2 separate regions of the Homo sapiens genome follow, and region 1 is linked to region 2. A link means that fine-mapping ties the variant in region 2 to the expression of a gene that starts in the linked region. Tissue or cell type: gastroesophageal junction. Region 2 holds a variant in brackets; the other region holds the start of a gene. All regions are shown on one strand. Distances are between the middles of the regions.

Region 1 (10,560 bases), 78 kb after region 2:
GGGATGGAAAAGATATTCCATGCAAACAGAAACGAAAAGAGCAGAGGTAGCTACACTTATATCAGACAAAATAGATTTAAGTTAAATACTATAAAAAGAGAAAAAGAAGGCTATTATATAATAACAAAGAAGTTAAATCACCACAAAGACATAACTATTGTAAATATACACCCACCTAAAATCAGAGCACCTAAATACATAAAGCAATTACTAAATGATCTAAAGGAAAAAATATAATTTAATAATATTACAGTAGGGCTCTCCATATTCCATTTTCAGTAATGGACAGATCATCTAGAGAGAAAATCCATAAAGAAACTATGGACTTGCATTACACTTTAGAGTAAATAGACCAAACAGAAATATACAGAACACTGTATCCAATAGCAACAAAATACACATCCTTCTTAAGTGCACATAGAACATTCTCCAGGATAGCCCATATGTTAATGCACAAAACAAATCTTAACAAATTTAAGAGAATTGAAATCATATCAAGTATCTTTTGAGATCACAATGGAATGAAACCAGAAATCAGTAACAGGAGATATCTTGGAAAATACACAAATGTGTGGAAATGAAACAACATGCTCCTAAACAACCAATAGGTTAAAGAAGAAAGCAAATAGAAAATAAAAAATTACCATGAGACAAAAGAAAATGGTAAGACAATGTATCAAAACTTATGGGAGACAGCAAAAGCAATCCTAAGAGGGAAATTCATAGCAATGAACACCTATATAAAAAAAGAAAGGTTACAAATAATCTAACATTACCACTCAAGAAACTAGAAAAATAAGTATAAACTAAGCCCAATGATAGCAGAAGAGGGGAAATAACAAAAATCAGCACAGAAATAAATGAAATAGAGACTAGAAAAACAATAGAAAATATCAACAAAACTAAGTTGGTTTTTTGAAAAGATAAAGTTGACAAACCCATAGCTAGACTAACTAGGAAAACAAGAGCCTACTCAAACAAGATTAGAAAAGAAAGAGGAGACATTACAATATACATTGCCTATATCTACTATAATAGACATATATACACACACAAATCAATATGTGATATACCACATTAATCAAGGATAAAAATCATATAATGATTTCAATACATGCAGAAAAAACATTTGAAAAATCCCAACATCCTTTTATAATAAAACTCTTAACAAGGCCAGGCGCGGTGGCTCACACCTGTAGTCCCAGCACTTTGGGAGGCCAAGACGGGCAGATGGCGAGGTCAGGAGATTGAGACCATCCTGGCTAACACAGTGAAACCCTGTCTACTAAAAATACAAAAAAATTAGCCTGGTGTAGTGGTGGGCGCCTGTAGTCCCAGCTACTCTGGAGGCTGAGGCAGGAGAATGGCGTGAACCTGGGAGGTGGAGCTTGCAGTAAGCTGAGATCACGCCACTGCACTCCAGCCTGGGAAACTGAGCAAGACTCCATCTCAAAAAAAAAAAAACAAAAACAACAACAAAAAAAACTCTTAACAAATTGGGTATAGGTATAGAGGGAATGTACCTCAACACAATAAAGGCTACATATGACAAACCCTTAGCTAATATCATTCTCAACAGTAAAACACTGAAAGCTTTTCCTCTAAGATCAGTGACAAGACAAGTATGCCTACTCTCACCACTTCTTTTCAATATAGTACCGTAAGTCCCAGCTAAAGCAATTAGGCAAGAGGAAAAATTTGAAGCCTAATAGGAAATGAAGAAGTGAAAATATCCCTATTTTCTATGACATGATCTTATATATGAATCCACCAAAAAACTATTAGAACTGATAAATTAACAGTAAAGTTACAGAATACAAAATCAACATATAAAAGTCAGCAGCATTTTTATATAGTAATAACAAATTAAAATGAAATTAACAAGACCATCCCCTTTAAAATAGTAACAAAAAATTAAATACTTAGGTGTAAATTTAATGAGCAGGTAAAAGGCCTGTACACTGAAAACTATAAAACACATAAAAATACAAGTAAATAAGAAAATACAAGCAAATGGAAAGATATCTCATGTTCATGGATTGGAAGAATTAAAATTGGGAACATGTCTATATGACTGACCTACGGCAATATACAGATTCATTGTAATCTCTACAAAATTCCAGTGTCACTTTTTTCACATAAATGTAAAAAAATCCTTAAATTTGTATGAAACCACAAAAGACCCCACATACCTAAAACAATCTTGAGAAAAAAAATCAAAGTTGAAGCCATCATACTCTGATTTCAAGACATATTATAATTATAGTAATTTAATCAAACTAGCATGGTACTGGCATAAAATTACGGGCATTGACCAATGCACTAGGATAGAAGGCCCAAAAATAAACCAATACATATACTGTCAATTGATTTTTGACAAAGGTGCCAAGAACACACAATGGGGAAAGGGCATCTTCTTCAATAAACAGTGTTGGAAAATCTGGAAATTAGACCCTTATCTCTCACCATGAACAAAAATCAACTAAAGTGAATTAAGCAGTTAAATATGAGACCTGAAACTGTAAAATTACTAGAAGAAAACACATGGGAAAAACTTTATGACATTGGTCATTTACATTTAATATTTTACTATTACAAAAAGATGCTCCAAAGAGCATACTTACACATATTTTTTTTGTTCACATGAGCACGCATTAATCTAGGTACACACTTATATCCAGAATGTACTGGGTTACAGAACATTTAGATCTTCACCTTTACCAGATATTGCTTAATTTTTCTCAAAAATAGTTATAATAATTACAATTCCACAAGAAATGCAGAGAACTGTCATTTTACTACATCCTTGACTTATTATCAAAGGCTTACATTTTTGTCAATTTACAGAAACCTGCTTCCAAAGATGGAGGAAGCTGGGAGACCAAAGAGGCTGACCAATCGAATTTCTCAGAAAGAAATACTTAGTAGAGACAAACAGAAGCGACCCCTGCACTTGCCCTCCAGAAAGTATGCTTTATTTAGCAAGCCTCTAGGGTAAAGACAAGTGCAACTAGTTAGCTCTTAGACTATTGTGATCACTGGGGACGTTAGATAAGCATCTTTATGAGGGGTTATATATGTTATGAGCATTGTTTAAAGACCTTTGCTGCAGAACACCTCGGTATGCTGTGGGTCAAACATCAGTCCCCAGGATAGTTTTGCTTCAAGATGGTGTCACTCTTGCCAGGAAACAGGCTGTTTTTCTACACAGTCTAATGGATGTGACATATTATCTTGCATTTTTCTGATGACTACAGAAAGTTTGGTTTGCTTTTCACATTCTTTTTCCATTTTTCTATTGTGTCATTTTTCTTATTATTTCTTCGCATATTTTAGAAATACTTTATATTTTATAACTATATTTTCCAAGTTTGTGCTTTAACTTTAATTTTCTTATATAGTCAATTTTTAATTAACATTTTTATTTTTAATGTTTTATGAAACTCTTCCAACAGCCTAAGTTAGGAAGATATATTTATATATTTTCTTATCAAAGTATAATATTTTGCTTTCGTATTTACATATGCACTTCACCTCGAGTTTATTTTTGTGTGTAACGCCGGGTAAAAAATTTTTCCTATGTGGATAGTCAATTATTCTGGCACCACAAGTTCATATTTACAAGGCTACTTGTCTATTTAATCATGCTCAAAACCAGCTCGGCCCTTTCATGTCTTTCATCACATCCTTTGTTGCTTACCTCTCACCACACCCTTCTACAGAAGCGTTATTTTCTTGTTAAACCAGACTATTCACTGCATTTACTCTTCTTGCAACATGCTAAAATTGTTCCTGTTGTCTCTACGAGTCACGCTTTCTGCCTTTTTTCCTTACTGAATTTAAACCTCTTGTGAAAAAGACTGTCCAATTTACGTTTTCACCCTTAATACTGAGCATTGATGTAGCAGGTTTTCAAATATTCTTGTTTTATGCTGAATTTCAGTTGGCCCTTATAGATGGAAACTTTCACTGAGTACAAGCTATATATCCATGTATTTAGGAACAATCAACAGTTTTAACGAATAGGAACCAGTCATCTTTTCTGCCCCGGTGGATAGGCTTAGTGGTGGTCGGTGGATGGCGCTGACCGCGGTTGATCAGAGGAAGCTGACGCCGTTTGCAGGCGTGGCCTGGGCGTGCCCGCTTCAAAGTAGACGCCCGGAGTTGGCCCAGTTCTGACCCTAGTGATGCGCCTGTGCGTGTGTTCCTATCGCCGTCCCGTCTTCACTTCCTACAGATGCCGCGACCCCCCAAATAGCAAGTGTGGACATTCACATTCAGGGGCACAGGCTGTCCGTACAGCGAACGTTGTCACCATTCCCGGAGATAGGGCCCCGACCTTCAAGGGGGCGGTGCGGTTGGCGCGCAGTTCTCAGGCGCCTTCTAGAATCCCCTGCCAGCCTCCCCGCTGCCTGGTTACCAAACTCGGCCGGGGACACCCAACCTCCCCTCTCGAGGACCTGGGTTGGCCAGCCCAGCTTTGTACGGGTGACTGAAGTCCACATCGACGTAACAGTTGAAAGGGAAGGACGCGGAGACCACCCGGTACCCGCCCCAGGCGTTTCCAGAGTCTCCGCTTAGGCGGCCCGTGGGGGTCGGGGTCGCGGTCGCGGTCGCGGACCGGGGACAGAGCAATGGGGCGGGCGCGCAGCGCCGGCTGCACTCCCAGAGCCTCCCACCGCCGCCCCACGGCCGCCTAGCGCGCGCCGGGACTGCATTTCCCATAGGCCCACGCTGCGGAGCACCGCCCACCCGAGTCTCACGCGAGTGCGCTGCCGCGAGGTGTCCCTGCCGCAGCCCCCGCCCGCCCGCAGAGCTTTTGAAAGGCGGCGGGAGGCGGCGAGCGCCATGGCCAGTCCGGGCTGCCTGCTGTGCGTGCTGGGCCTGCTACTCTGCGGGGCGGCGAGCCTCGAGCTGTCTAGACCCCACGGCGACACCGCCAAGAAGCCCATCATCGGTAAGGAGGCTGTGCGGGGCCGCAGCAGACGGGGAGGAGCTGGGTGTTGGCGCTGGGCGCCTCCCGCCGCCGCGCTCCAGCTGGCGCGTCCCGCCGGGAAAAACCCCCAGATGTGCTTCGCTTTTGGTGCAAGGAGGAACCCGGGCTGGGCACCATTTAGGTCGTACTGAAATGTACCTGGTTGAGGTACCTCGTTCATTCCTTTAGACTCATATGACTCTTAAAGGTGGGAGGGAGGAGGGTGCACCATGAAGAATCCTGCGGATTTTCTTTTTTTGTACACAGCTAGGAATTTCTACTAAAATAAAACATTTCCTTTTCGCACATAGTTGGGAAGTTTTACTCATTTACATCTACAAATTCTGTACATGCATTGCATTCATCAAAATGTATTGATGGCGTATTTAAAATACCAGTGCATTGTAATAGAAAATCAAGAAATTAAGGTATAACTTGGATTTTGTCATGTTCAGTAGCAGAGGACAACAGTGGCTGATATCCTAATGTGAGTTCTATTTGGTGTTAAAATGCAGCCCACAATTTTTCGTTTCCAACATATTTGTGTTTTAAAGAGGTAGTAAAATCAGTCTGTGTTACCAAAACACACATTTGAGACAGGCCCAAGGAAAGCTACCTAGGAGAAATCATCCTGGGGTTAAAATTTGCCCAAAGAAATTTGTGTGTGGACATTAAGATTAGTTTTATTTTGGCTGTAGGATTATGCCTTTCATACTATTTTTTTCTATGAATATTATCACTGTATTCTGTAACTAAACAGAAAGTAGATGAATGTTTTTTCATATAGGTAGTGCCCAGTTTTCAAATGGGTTGCTTACTAATATTTGGAACTTATTTCATAGCTGTTTAACATGGTGATTTGATTCTCCACGAATTAACTCAAGCTGTAATTAATGTAACAGGTTGCATATTGTGTGTCCAGAGAAGAGAAAAAAAAGCAGAGGGGATTCTTCCCCTTTCCTAGAATCAGGGGTAGCCCTGCGTCAAATATTTAAAAAAGGGACTTTGCTTTTGGTCACTGAGATCAGCACAACATCGTTAACTGAGTACCGACTATGTACACAATCTTGCTCTGGGAAGTGCAAAGGATTGAAAGATGACAAGCCACAAAAGTTGTGAGATGGCCTTAAATTATTGGTGGAATTTTGGTCATATTTTGAGGGACAGGGAGAACAGCTTGAGCTCTTTTCCCAGGGATGGGAAAAGTGAATATGCGTGGGCCCAGGGGAAGGGGAGATGTTGGTGGAACTCACTCTGATGTACTTCTCTTTCTGGTACCCTTGTGCTCCCATGATGCCCCATGTCTCCTTTGTGGTACCTCACCCCATGTACCCTGTACCACTCCATTTCCTATGACACTCCTAGTTCTTCGTTCCCTAGCCAAACTTTGTTATTCCTTAGTGAAGATGATCTTACCTACCAGTAAGGAGAAAAAGTTTTACTGAACAAATTTTGGCGTTTGACATGTTAATCTGAATACCTGATGAATGCCAATTGTAAGAAGCTGGGAATACAAAAGTGAGTAATACAGACAACAGCTCTTCCTATCAGGTGGCCTACAGAGACACTGAAAGTGTTCCAAATGCTGAAGTGCTGAATAGGAGTAGGCACAGGTACTCACCCGACAGACGTGTTTTGATGTATACTGGTTGCTATACTCTGCTGGGGCTGGGTTTCACTGGTAAAAGGAGGCCAGAGAGATGGGTGGGGCAGAGCATACGGGTCTTACAGAGTTTATTAAAGTTTAGGGACCCACTGAGGTAGTTAAACAAAGTGGTGACACCTGCTTGCTGATCTATCGCTACCTGATGTCCTTTCCTATTGCTTTCTGCTTTCACTCACCTGGCTCTAATAATATGGATTCCTTGCAACGTGACAGGCACAAATCTGACTCCTGGCCTTTGCACTTGCTATTCCTTTGTCCTGGATTGCTCTTTTCCCAGATATATGAATGTGGTTTACTCTGTCACCTCTCTGAAGTCCTGGCTCAAATGTCATGTTTTACCTTCTCAGGGAGGACTTGCCTGGCCACCGTGTTGAAGAGACTGTCCTTTCCTACATAGATGGGCTCTCCTTCCCCACCGTCTTTCTCTCCTTAGTGCTTACGACCAGCCATCACTCTATATATTATGCCTTTTTGTCTTGTTTATTGTTTGTCCTCTTTCCCCTCCCTGCTACACCCTCGAATTAATGCACACAGGGCAGGGGCTTTTGTTTGGTTCACTCATAGTCATGTGTCCCCAGCAGCTAGTTTGTTGCCTGGCATGAGGTATGATTCAACAGTATATATTGAATGACTGTAGGAATAGGAATGGTGATATGATCCGATTTGCTTCTACATGGGGAGCTGCTTGGAGCTTGGGGGGGTTTCTTAAGAAAAGATATAACAAGACCTTCTAAGAGTCTATTATGATAGTGTGGTGGGGAGAGGGTAGATATTGATAGCTTGGGCTAAGGTAATGTTGGAGAGGTGTGGATGGAAGATGTTTTCACTCCTTTGCTTCGTTGTCAGGGAATCAGTGTGTCTGTGAGTATGTGTGGGAAAGGAGTGACAGCCTTGTAAATTTAAGGATCTATATTCTTTAGATGGATTCTAGGTCTACAGTTGTGTGAAGGCTGCAAGTGCTATTGTAAGCCTTCTTTGGGGGCTTATTTGGCCTCCCTAATGAGGTGAGAGATAGATCTACTTGAAAGTAAGATCAGCCTCCCCTGCTGCTTTCCCATAGGCTATGGGTGGACTTGGAGGAGAGACTTCCTATTTAATTCTGTGGATTGAAATAATAAAATATGATATTTTTGCTGTGATATATTTCAGTTTCTGAGCAAGAAGAAAAGGAATTTGCTTGAAACTAAACTTTTTTTTGTTATTAGGAATATTAATGCAAAAATGCCGTAATAAAGTCATGAAAAACTATGGAAGATACTATATTGCTGCGTCCTATGTAAAGTACTTGGAGTCTGCAGGTGCGAGAGTTGTACCAGTAAGGTATGATTCAGTGTTTTTTTTTTTTTTTTACTCTGTATAAAAAATTGCTGCGTACGGGTGCGGTGCCTCATGCCTGTAATTCTAGCACTTTGGGAGGCCAAGGCGGGTGGACTACTGAGGTCAGGAGTTCGAGACCAGCCAGGCCAACCTGGTGAAGCCCTGTCTCTACTAAAAATACAAAAATTAGCTGGGTGCAGTAGTGCACTCCTGTAATCCCAGCTACTGGGGAGGCTGAGGCAGGAGAATCGCTTGAACCAGGGAGGTGGAGGTTGCAGTGAGTTGAGATCGCACCACTGCACTCCAGTTTGGGCAACAGATCGAGACTCCATCTCAAAATAATAATTACTGCCTAATATCTCTAAAATTCGTGCTTTCTCTCTTATGATTACATTGTTTAAATGCAGTAACATTGCACCTGATTTTTGACACAAACATGTTGCTTAGAGTCTCTCATTGAATTGTTTAATGTGGGAAGCTGTGTGTTACCTGTAACGTCATTAGAGGTACCATATGTCATATGCATTAACATCAAGAATGAAATGATAGTTTCCTTTATCCCAGAAAAGGTGGTTCTCACAGACACTATGAAGGTAATGGAGTAAAATAATCTAAAGTGGTTGGGGGGGCGGGGTGAGGGATAAAAAATTACATATTGGGTACAGTGTACATTGCTCGGGTGGCTGGTTCATTGAAATCTCAGACTTCATCACTATACAGTTCATGCATGTAACCAAAAACCATTTTTACCCCAAAGGCTATTGAAATAAGAAAAAAATTTTAATGAATCTACAATTTAACCAGCTTTGTTCTATAATATTAGGATAAGAGAACAGTTAGGGAATGAAGGAGGTTTTTAGAAGATGACTTTTAAAATACCTTCACACTCTACTTTAAAAGTTTGTAAATTACCAGTGCATTAGGGTTGCTTCAGTGTGGATTATAGGTATTGCAGTTTTAAAGGCACTGCATTATTTTTGTGATAAAATGTTCCTATAAGAATAAAATGATTCATCTCATTTTCATTTAGAACTGAATTCTTCCCATATTTTTCATCTGGAAGGAGCTAACAACCAGAATCTTATAAGGATTTGTAATGTCTTGTCAGCTAAAATTAATGTATTTTAGAATCTTTGAGCACCTCATCTAATCCATTTTGAGTGATTTCACACATAAAACACTATTTATTCTGTACAGCCTGTTTTTGCAAACAATTCCTCATCAAAAATTATAACAAAAATACTGTTCAAATATAATACTACTAATAAAATGCAAATATTACAATTTAGAGAATTGTACCACAAAATGGCTTTAGGTTTAGATTTATAAGAATTGTCTTCTTGTATGATCTTTTACATTTAAATTAACTGTTTCTACACCAAGATTGCCATTTGCTTTTGATATTAGTCTTTAATATTTTAGTAGCCTATCTAATTTTTCAAACGAAATTTTATTTGAAGCCCATATAACGCCAGAGTTTTAGAGCTGAGGAAGAGGCTCCAGAGAGTCTTCAGAACAGTGTTTCAAAGTTTTCATCAGGGAAACTTTTTAATGCAAGCTGTTCTTCTGGGATGTTAGTGCTGACCGTGTGGATGGGAGATATATATAAAAATATATATATATTTTTATATATATTATATATATATATAAGGAGAGACATATATATATATATATAAGGAGAGACAAAAGGCAGAGCAGCCATAAAAAAGAATGAAATCATATCCTTTGCTGCAATGTGAATGCAGCTGGAGGCCCAAGTGAATTAATGCAGAAACAGAAAACCAAATACCACATATTCTCACTTATAAGTGGGAGCTAAACATTGGGTACACATGGACCCAAAGATGGCAGCAATAGATGCTGGCGGCTACTAGAGGAGGAGGGCAATAAGGGCTGAAAAACTACCTATTGGATACTGTGCTCACTACCTGGGTGACAGGATCATTTGTACCCCAAACCTCAGCATCACACAATATACCCATGTAGCAAATCTGCACATGTACCCTCTGAATCTAAAATAAAAGTTAAAATTATAAAAAATAAATGAAGTAAAATCATAACTGAAAGAGGAGACATTACAACTAATGCTACAGAAATAAAAAGGTTCATAAAAGACTACTTAAACTATATGCCAACAACATGTGTAACCTAGAAGAAATGAATAAATTGTTAGAAACACACAGTCTACCAAGACTGAATCATAAAGAAATAGGTAACAAACCTGTCACTGGTGGAGAGATTGAAATGGTAATCAAGAGCCTCTCAACACAGAAAAGCCCAAGACCAGCTGGCTTCACTGGTGAATTCTACCAAACATCTAAAGCAGAATTGATACCAGTCCTTCTCAAACTCATCCAAAAAATTGAAGACAGTACAATTCCAAGAATGAACCCCAGTGTAAACTAGGTCTTGGGCAATTATGATGTGTCAGTGTATTTTTATCAACTGTTACAGTGTACCACCCAAGATGTTAATGGAGGAAGCTATACATGTTTTGGGGCAGGGGTTATAAAGGAAATACTTAACCTTCTCTTAATTTTGCTGTGAACCTGAAATTACTCTAAAAAATAAAGTCTTTAAAAAAATAAAACAAAATGCCTAA
Region 2 (10,560 bases):
GAAACAACAGACATTGGGGCCTCCTTGAGGGAGGAGGGTGGGAGGAGGGAGAGGTGTAGAAAAGATAACTATTGGGTAATGGGCTTAATATCTGGGTGATGAAATAATTTGTAAAACAAACCCCTGTGACATGTGTTTACCTATGTAACAAACATTCACATGTACTCCCAAACCTAAAATAAAAACAAATTATAAGGTATTTTATCTTTAATATCATCATTGGCTAGTATAGTACTCATAGTGAAACATTACTATTTGAAAATAATTTGGAGGAAAGCAAACTGGTCAACATGTCATTTGGGTCATGGGGATGGTTTTGTAATGTTTTATGCATCTTTAAGCATTTTTTTGCCAATTTTTCTCCCTCATCCCCTAACTGTGGCGGGTTGTACTTAAAAAAGAAAAAACAAAACACAAACAAACTAGATTTAGTGTACAAAGGGATTGTACTTTTTAATACTAACTTATTTTCATCTACTTTTAACTGCTCTTCAGTGTCATTTCAAAAATTTGGGGTACCCTACATGTCCAATAAATGGTAAATTGCAAAAAAGTATGTGTGACATTAGGTTGTAGAAAAAGGACACATATTCTTTATATAATAGAATATTGAAGGATATAATCTAAGGTATAGGTAATCATATTTTATTACAAAAATAGATTTGCATTATTAAAACTTTCTGCTCCTTACGGAAAATCAGAAACTACAAACTAGCAAATGAATAAAAGAACAGTCAAATTTTGGTGATTTAGAGACAATTGCTACATGGGAAATAATGGTGAAAAAGAAGATATGTATATGAATTGAGGATTAGTGACTATATTAAGAAAAGGTTACTCTTGATAAGATTTTTGGAGGAGGATATAGAATATCAAGTGAATTTGGTGCTAATCTAGGAGGGGTAGCTTGAAATAAATAAGGAACTCTTTTGAAGGATGGTAAAAATGCCTATGGCACAACTTTGCTCAGGGTACCTGTTGTGATGGTGCTCAGTTGTAGCTAACCTGATCTTCCTACCTAAGATTAAAGCACAATTTGTTCACCTACCCCGAGTCTGGATGAGTTAAGCTGAACATTCCTGAATCTAAATTTCTAGACTTATCTTCTTCTACTTTTCCAGCCAAATAATTTTCCTCATGCTTCTGCTAAATTCTTCCCTTTCTTAATCTAGTCACTAATCCCCAGTTCACATACATATCTTCTCTTGACTTTGTGTCTATGCACAAGTTGTTTCATAGAACCATTGCCACCAATCATTGTGTACTGAAACATGTTCACCTTTCAAAGCTCACCTAAAATGCTTCCTTCCCCATGAAGTATTCACTTCTTACCCCACTCCTACTACTCAACCACAAGGAATCTCTTTCTTTTGATCCTCCATAGTACTTTGTATTTTGCTGATGGCCTTTACATTCCGGTAGCATAGAAAGGGGGGCAAAGAGGTGAATTCACAATGTGTGAATTTACAATGTAAAGTTCTTTGTAAACTGAAAAGCATTGTAGAAATATGTGATGTTACCACTGTCTCATCCTCAGAATTACATTCTATGCTTCTTTAGGGCAGACATGATACCTTATTCAACTTTTTGTCCAGATTACCTAATGTAATGTCCAACACATAGTTATTTTAAAAATATTTGCTAAATAGGCTGGGCGCGGTGGCTTACGCCTGTAATCTCAGCACTTTGGGAGGCCGAGGCGGGCGGATCACGAGGTCAGGAGATCGAGACCATCCTGGCTAACACGGTGAAACCCCGTCTCTACTAAAAATACAACAACAAAAAAAATTAACCGGGTGTGGTGGTGGGCGCCTGTAGTCCCAGCTACTCAGGAGGCTGAGGCAGGAGAATGGTGTGAACCCGGGAGGCGGAGCTTGCAGTGAGCCGAGATCGCACCACTGCACTCCAGCCTGGGCAACAGAGCGAGACTCTGTCTCAAAAAAAAAAAATTTGCTAAATAGCATATAGTAGTTCTCTTCCGCCTTCCCTGGCACTGACTCACTGACTCTTTAGGAGTGGTCATGGATCTGAAAGAAATGCTTCTTGTTTCTCCTAAGCTATTATTCACAAATTCTGTAGAAATCTTCGCCGACTGTGAATGATGATAAGATATTCATCCTCCCTATTGAGTTTGTGAGGTATTAGTATATAAGGTTTATTTCCAGGCATCATGCCCAAATGTCTACTCTTTGATGAATGGATAATGAGAAGTTCTCTTGGTCCTTTAGATCTGGGGCGGTTTATGGATATGTGCTTGGTACAGGTGAAGGATTTGTAGTGTAATGCTTTCTATAATGCCCTTAGAATACAGACAGCATTCTAAGGGCATTACAGAAAGTGTTACACTATCTGCATGACCCAAATGACGTGTTGACCAGCTTGCTCTTCTCCAAAAGGGCTTTCTATAATGTCCTTAGAATACAAGGAGAGCAGACATGCTTCTCTGAGTGACACATTTCAGGACACCTGCATTCACTTTGGAATATCTGCCGCACATTATCTCTTGCCCCAGATCTTGTTTTATAGTGCTACCAGGATTTTCCCCCTGCCTCTAGGAGGCTGAAAAGGTAACAGATTCCTTCCACACCAGCATTTTAGATGATTTTGTTATTTATGCCCATTATGAACAGGTGGAACTCAACATAAAATGAAGAAGCCTGGCTCTCTCATTCTACTAGCTACTTCTGGACCATACTGAACTACTTAACAAATGACATAAATTTTCGTTTTTAAAATGTGAGTTATAAGAGTGGGAGGGTTGAGACAAATCACTATTAGATACAGAATTATATTGTTAGGCAGATTTATTCATCAGAAAATTTCCTTTATAAATGTGCATTCATTCATGCACACATATTTACAGAAACATGTTTGTTTCTGCACAGACCATTCCTTTCAGTTCAGTACCCATTTATCGTAGCCTTAATTTGTGCCAGACACCATGCTAGCTCCTGAGCATGGAGAGTTGCATGAATTGCAGCCGTGTCTCACGGAACTTAGATAAACCCTCCAATATGCCTAAGTGTTCACAGGGAATTGGGGAGGACCAGGAATTTTAATTCACTATGACATGTAGGGCAGCAGACACAAAGTATAACAATAGTTCATAGGAAAGTAATCTTATCACAGTCTAAAAGAGCCAAGGAAAACTTCATAAAGATGGTAAAAGTTTTGAAGGATAAGTAGGGGTTCACCAAGCCCAAAAGTGTAAAATAGTGTGGCAGTTTTGGGGTAGTATAGTAAGTAATGTATTTGAGGAGATCTGTGAGATGATCAATTAGAGTACTAGGTAACATATTAGAGCTTCTATTTAAACAGAAATACCAATTAAATATATGCTTAGAAATAATTTCCCTGTCAGATTAGCAAAAATCCATAAATTCTACACACTCTTTTTTTTTTTCTTTTTGTTTTGAGCTAGCATCTCACTCTGCTGCCCAGGCTGGAGTGCAATGGTATGATCATAGCTCACTATAACCTTGAAATCCTGGGCTCAAGCAATCCTCCCACTTTAGCTTTTCAACTAGATGAGACTACAAGCATGTGCCACCATGGTCACCTAATGTTTGTATTTTTTATACAGACGGAGTCTCACTATATTGCTCGGCTTCTATACACTCTTTTGAGCACCCTCTACACTGCTAGTAGGAATGCAAATTAATACAGCCCCTAAGGAAGGCAATTTTGAAATATCTATCAAAATGACAAACACACATGTCTTCTGACCCAGTAATCCCCCTTCAAATAATTTATCATATATACATATACACATATATATTTGCACACTTGCAAAATTACATGCGTGATATAGGTTATTCATTCTAGCATCATTTGTAATACTATTGAGATTCATCCATGTTATTGCATGTACCAGCACTCATTCCTTTTTCTTGTTGAACAGTATTTCATTATAAAGAGGTTTATCCATTGTTTTTCCACATTTATCCGCAATCGGTTTATCTACTTAACAATAGATGGATATGTATTTTTTTCCCAGATTTTGGCTATTTTGAATAAACATTCACCTATAGCTCTTTATGGTATTTTGATTTCTCTTGATTGTCTTCTTATTGACTTGTGAGGGTTCTTTCCATATCCCATATAAATGTCCTTCATCAAGACATTTCATGGAGACATTTTCTCCCAGTCTGGGGCTTTTTTTTTTTTTCCTTTTTCATAGTAGTTCTTCTAAAGACCAGAGTGTTCAATTTTTATTAAGTCCAATTTATCAATTTTATTTTTTATGGTTCATACTTATTGTATCCTATCTAGTAAATGTTTGCCTTAAGCAAGGTCACAAATATTTTCTTGTATGTTTTCTTATAGAAGTTTATAGTTTTAGTTCTAACATTTAGAGCTGTTATTTATTTGAATTTAATTATTCTTACGTAGTGTGTACATGTTAATTTCCAATAAAAACCTTAAAAAGGAAGAGTTTCTAACTTTGTTGACCTTTGTTGGTAAGTATTGTTAGATTAGTGTTACTCCACCTAGTGGATACCTAAAAACACACATTTTATCTGTCAGTTCATATGGCATTTTAATTAAAAATACAAAAGTTGTTTTTTTCCATAAAATAAACAGAAGTATTTTGACACCAAATGTTTTTAAAATTATGATATAATTGTATTTTTGGAACAAATATATCACCTATACAAATTCTCATATCTCCACATGCTTAGGAAACTTACTTAGAAACAGAATTTTTAAACATATTCTAAAGTCCTTCACTTTAAAATGAAGCACTTCAGTGAGATTCCAGTGCTTTTAAAAATTTGAAAATACAGCACCTTCTAGTTAATTGACATTAGGAAACAGCTAATTGACATTAGGAAAAGTGGAAGTATTAAGTTTTCATTGATTTTCAATGAAAACTTTTGAATAAGTGTATGAAATTGAATAGCAAGTATTGGATCTACATATTTTTGTGAGGTATCTTTTTATTTTTAATTTTTTTTTTTTTTTTGAGACCGAGTCTTGCTCTGTCGCCCAAGCTGGAGGGCAGTGGTGCGATCTTGGCTCACTGCAACCTCTGCCTCCTGGGTTCAAGTGATTCTCCTGTCTCGCCCTCCCGAGTAGCTGGGACTGCAGGCACGTGCCACCACACCTGGCTGATTTTTTTTATTTTTAGTAGAGGCGGGGTTTCACCATGTTAGCCAGGATGGTCTTGATCTCCTGACCTCGTGATCTGCCCACCTC[A/G]GCCTCCCAAAGTGCTGGGATTACAGGCGTGAGCCACCGCACCGAGAGGTATCTTTTAAAAATACAGCTGATTATCAAAATAAGCTGAACTTACAATTTAACTTTTGATTGTTGTATTGAAAAATGATTACTCAAAATAAAAATGATTATGCATATTCACTCAGTACTCAGCAAAAATATTAATAGTAAGAGCAAAAAGTATCTTTATACCATTAGTAAAACTAAACGATTTTAAATTATTTCTTCTTTATATCATACTGTAAAATGCTTGTCTATATTTTATAATATAAATAATTTATAAGCATTTAGTACATAACAAATAGATATATCCTTAGCCCTACAACTTTGGGAAGCCGAGTCAGGAGGATTGCTTGAGGTCAGGAGTTTGAGACCAGCCTGGGCATCGTAGCCAGACCCCATCTGTACAAAAAATTTTAAATTAAAATAGCCAGGCATGGTGGTGCACATCTGTTGTCTCAGCTACTCCAGAGGCTGAAATGGGAAGATTACTTGAGCCCAGGAGTTTGAGGCTACAGAGAGCTATGATCATAACACTGCACTCCAGCCTGGGCAGCAGAGTGAGACTCTGTCTCTTAAAAACAAAAAGGAAAAAGAAAATTCCAAGCTTAGAGATGAGAAGAACGGTGATATCATAGACAGATTTATGAACATATTTAAAAAGATGTCAGTTTATGATGGGAGAATGTTGAACTCAATTGCAAAGGTTAAATTTGAAGTCGTTTTGGTAAGTCATTATTTTTCTCTACATTTTACTAAAAAAAAAACAGATTGAGGAAAAATGGATTGATATCCTTAATGGATAAAGGTCACGTACAAATCAATAGAAATAAAAACACATTTTCAATGAAAAATGGGCAAAGACAATAGCCAGGAATTCATCAGAGAAAATACCCAAATGACCAATAAACATGTGAGAAATGTTCAACCTCATAAATAATTTATGAAACGTGAAATCAAAAAAATAATAACTTATAAAGATGATCAGAATAGGCTTTAGCAGAATTATGTTGCTTCTTTGGAGAAATGATTCTTTTACATAATTAGACTTGAATGCACTTAGAATATACTCAGAATCGCTGACTGATGGAAATGAGAATCTGAGAGGGAGCACAGTAGGGCGATGCCACAGGACAGATGGGCCAGGAATGGACTGAGAGGGGCTGACAGTTGGAGGAATTAATAGTGACTACACCAAGTGGAGAAGGCAATCTTTCCCAACATACCTGGAGAAGTTAAGAAAGCACCGGCTGGGCGCGGTGGCTCACCCCTGTAATCCCAGAACTTTGGGAGGTTGAGGTGGGTGGATCACAAGGTCAGGAGATCGAGACCATCCTGGCTAACACGGTGAAACCCTGTCTCTACTAAAAATACAAAAAATTAGCAAGGTGTGGTGGCGGGTGCCTGTAGTCCCAGCTACTTGGGAGGCTGAGGCAGGAGAATGGCGTGAACTCGGGAGGTGGAGCTGGCAGTGAGCCGAGATCGTGCCACTGCACTCTAGCCTGGGCAACAGAGCAAGACTCTGTCTCAAAAAAAAAAAAAAAAAAAAAAAAAGAAAAGAAAAAAAAAAGAAAAGAAAAAAGAAAGCACCAGACAAATAGAAAAGTATTTTGCAAATACTTTTCTGCCAAAAGTTGCAGAATCTTAGGCACATCAATACAGAACATAAAGTTTGTCATGTACACTCCAGTATCCAAGAAATGGAGAAATGTTGTTTGAATATCTAAGAGGATGCCCTAGGAATTCAAAAGAGAAAAATAGATCCTGTTAAAGCATAATCATCGGGGGAAATAGAATTCCTCCAACTCCATTTGGAGTCTACAGAAAACATTAAGGAACACTATAATTATGAAGAAACTTCCTTTCACCAGCTTCAGGACTTGTGGTGCATTTTATGGCAAGTCTTCATCTTGATCAAGATTAATGCAGTTAGCTAGTTTCCTTCTCAACATACTGCTGATTCTTTGAATGTCTTTAGCGACTACCTTCTATTCTAACTGAATGAAGCTTAGAAACCTCAGAGTGCCTCCTCATTTTGCAGGCTGAAATTTTTGAGGCCAAGCTGCCATGCTATGTAGAATGGACTTTCAGGACCTCAAGCCCTTGTTTATCTACCTTTTGGAAAGAAATTTAAAAAAATTATAAGTAGATTCTGGATCTGACCTTCAGCATACATACTTCTTTGGATCATCTATCTCCTTGGAGAAGTAGTGGCCTTCATTCAGATGCAATTTTTGGTTAGTTTTCTCAGTTTTCACAGAGAATGTCAGACCTCTGACTTGCCTGATAACACACATGAGTCTATTTAAGTGACAGCAGAGAAAATCTGCAGTTTCAGTAACGGTCAAGCATTATGTATCAATTGCTGAGATGTTATCAATATCTCAGCTGAGTGAGAGAAGTCATGTTCTGGGAAGACTGACAGAGAATTTATACTTTGTGCTGGCTGCTGTGGTGTATTTTCCAGATCTGGCCCTTCAGGACTGACACACTCATTTCCCCAGCTGCTCACACTGTTGGCTACTGATGTCTCACAGTTCCTCTTCAGAAATCACCCTTAGCAGAAGGAGGCTGACTTATCCAAGGTTACGTCCTCTCCCTGGAGACAGCTTCCATCCAGCTATTGGTTGGGGTGAGGGCACAGGTGACCTTCTTTCCTTCATCTCTGAAGGGCGATCCAGCTCCAGGTCTCTCTCTGGGATTGACTGAAGCCTCTCCAGCTGCTGCATCACAGTTTAAGTTCTGCCCAGTTTACTTCCCTGGCACCCCTATAGGTGTTCCTCCTGAGCGCACGCCCCAATAAACTCCCTGTGTGCAGATCACCATCTCAGACGTTATTTCCACAGAGCCTGAACTAGGATGTACTCCGAATATTCTTTTAGGTATTGTAAACTCAACACCTGGATCTAGCTGGATCATAAGAGAGATTACTAGTGGTCACCATAAAATTGCTTACTTTTAATTTGTTTTAAGGAGTTACCTCTGCCTTTGTGGGATGATTCCTTAAAGAACAACCTGTCTGGCACAGGCTGGGGAATTGTGGGAATAATGGCAAGTTACAGCAGCTTATGCTTGTAATCCTAGCACTTCGGGGGGCCAAAGTGGGAGAAGTGCTTGAGGACAGGAGTTCAAGACCAACCTGGGCAACATATTGAGGCATCCCCCACCTCCCCCTCACTATGTAAAATACCAAAAATTAGCCGGCTGATAATGGTGCATGCGTGTGGTCCCAGGTACTCAGGAGGCTGAGTTGCAAGGATCTTTTGACCCCAGAAGTGTGAGGGTATAGTGAGCTATGATTGTACCATTGCACTCCAGACTCAGTGACAGAATGATACTCTATCTCTAAGAAAAAAAAAAAGTTATAATCGCTACTCTAAACTTGCCATTATTCCCACAATTTCATTTCTTTTTTAAAAATTAAAAAAAATTGGTCACTATTTTTACAATTTCATTTCTGCATTGGCTGCATGCAAAGATGTATAAATACAGATAATGATCATAACAGTTTAGAAATAAGAAAATAATGGAAACTATGAACATTCACCACACATACATTAGTTAAAATTTAAAAACACATGTAACAATATATTCATATTGTTTACTTGTTTAATCTCATTTTTTAAATGCCCTAAATATGTCCAAGAGTGAAGACATATGAAGTATGTCATGACAGATCATGACATTAGATGTATAGTAATTAAATACATAGAAGTAAAAGCTGAAACCACATTATTCTTACAACTTCATAAAATGGTATGCATTTGACTCATTTTACTTATTTTTTAGAGACAAGGTCTCACTCTGTCACCCAGGCTGGAGTGCAGTGGCATTATCGTAGCTCACTGTAGCCTGGAAATTCTGGGCTGAAGCAATCTTCCCACCTCAGCCTGCTGAGTAGCTGGGATTACAGGCCCATGCCACTGCACCCAGCTCTCATTTTTATTTAATTTCAGACAGATATTATATTAATAAAACATGCGTGCTATAAAAATTTAACATTTTATTAAATCAATTTAATTTTTAAGCAAATTCTATGAATGTTCTTCAAAATAAAGAAGTTTTAAGGCTTAGTTGTGACAGATTAATTTTAATAACCATGGAATGACTTTCCAGCATAACTAAATTATTTATTTATTTAGAAATGGAGTCTTGCTTTGTAGCCCAGCCTGGAGTGCAGTGGTGCAATCTCGGCTCACTGCAACCTCCACCTCCGGGTTCAAGCAATTCTCCTGTCTGAGCTTCTGGAGTAGTTGAGATTATAGGCCCCCGTCACCATGCCCGGCTAATTTTTGTTTGTTTGTTTGTTTGTTTTTAGTGGTTTCATCATGTTGGCCAGGCTGGTCTCCCAGCCTCAAGTAATCTGCCCACCTCAGCCTCCCAAAGTGCTCGGATTACAGGTGTGAGCCACCACACCCGGCCAGCTAAATGATTTTTATATCTATTAAATTTGCATCAACCAACTTATAGCTATAGTTACTATTTATTAATTATCTCTGTATACTAGTTTTTTATTTGCACAATGTGCCATTTATTCCTATTAACCTTATGAAATTGACTTTATTCAAGTTTTATTGATAACAAACTGACCTTCAACAGATTTAGCCTGAGGTTGCTTATCTAGTTCATAGAATTTTCAGACTCAACTTCCAGCCTATCTTTTTCAAAGTTTTCTCTTTTGCTTATTTGCCAAGATATATGTTCAAATTACATATATTTTAACTGAATCCATCCATGAAACATTGTAATAGATATTTAATAGCTTGATGTAACCAACGAAGTGTTAAATGAAAACAGTACTACAACATAAACTCCATTTTGAAATGTAAATGTACACCCATGGACATAGAAAAAAATGTCTGAAATTACATACATACTTGAATGGGGGAATTATGAATGAGTTTTAACCTAGTAGACTTTTTTACTTTGTAAAATACATAAGATGGGTAAGTTTCAACTTATAACTAGAAAAAAAGGAGTTTTACAAATATAAAGTTGCTTCCAGTTTTTTTTTTTGAGATGGGATTTTACAATGTTGCCCAAGCTGGACTCTAACTCTTGGGCTCAAGTGATCCCCCTCCTCAGCTTCATAAATAGTTGAGACTACAGGGCTTCTTGTTTTTAAATGGAGCATATTCGTTTCCTCGATCACTTTAGGAAGTGCAATTTACTTTGAGCTGACTTTAAAATGAACTCAGGACACTTTACATTTTTCCTTGTTTGAAAGACAGAAAAAAATCCAATTTATTTCTTCAAACTTTCCACTAGGTGGTGCTAAAGTGAAATTAATTAAATTGCCTTTTAAAAAATCCACTAGTTCTCAAACTTTAGATCTTAGTTTGG

Evidence for each region. PIP is the estimated chance that this variant, and not a neighbour inherited with it, causes the effect.
Region 1: GGH starts here. The variant in region 2 is fine-mapped to the expression of GGH in gastroesophageal junction (GTEx, PIP 0.97).

Annotation. Positions count from the first base shown.
Region 1 is chr8:63,033,057-63,043,616 of GRCh38, reverse strand. GGH (gamma-glutamyl hydrolase) reads left to right here and starts at 4,811. Exons shown (of 9, transcript NM_003878.3): 1 at 4,811-4,957; 2 at 7,847-7,961. The coding sequence starts at 4,849. RefSeq lists a silencer at 4,418-4,777.
Region 2 is chr8:63,111,172-63,121,731 of GRCh38, reverse strand. No RefSeq gene overlaps it. Among named protein-coding and RNA genes, the nearest start is that of TTPA, 30 kb to the right of the region's middle. The variant A/G (reference allele first, on the strand shown) is at 5,200.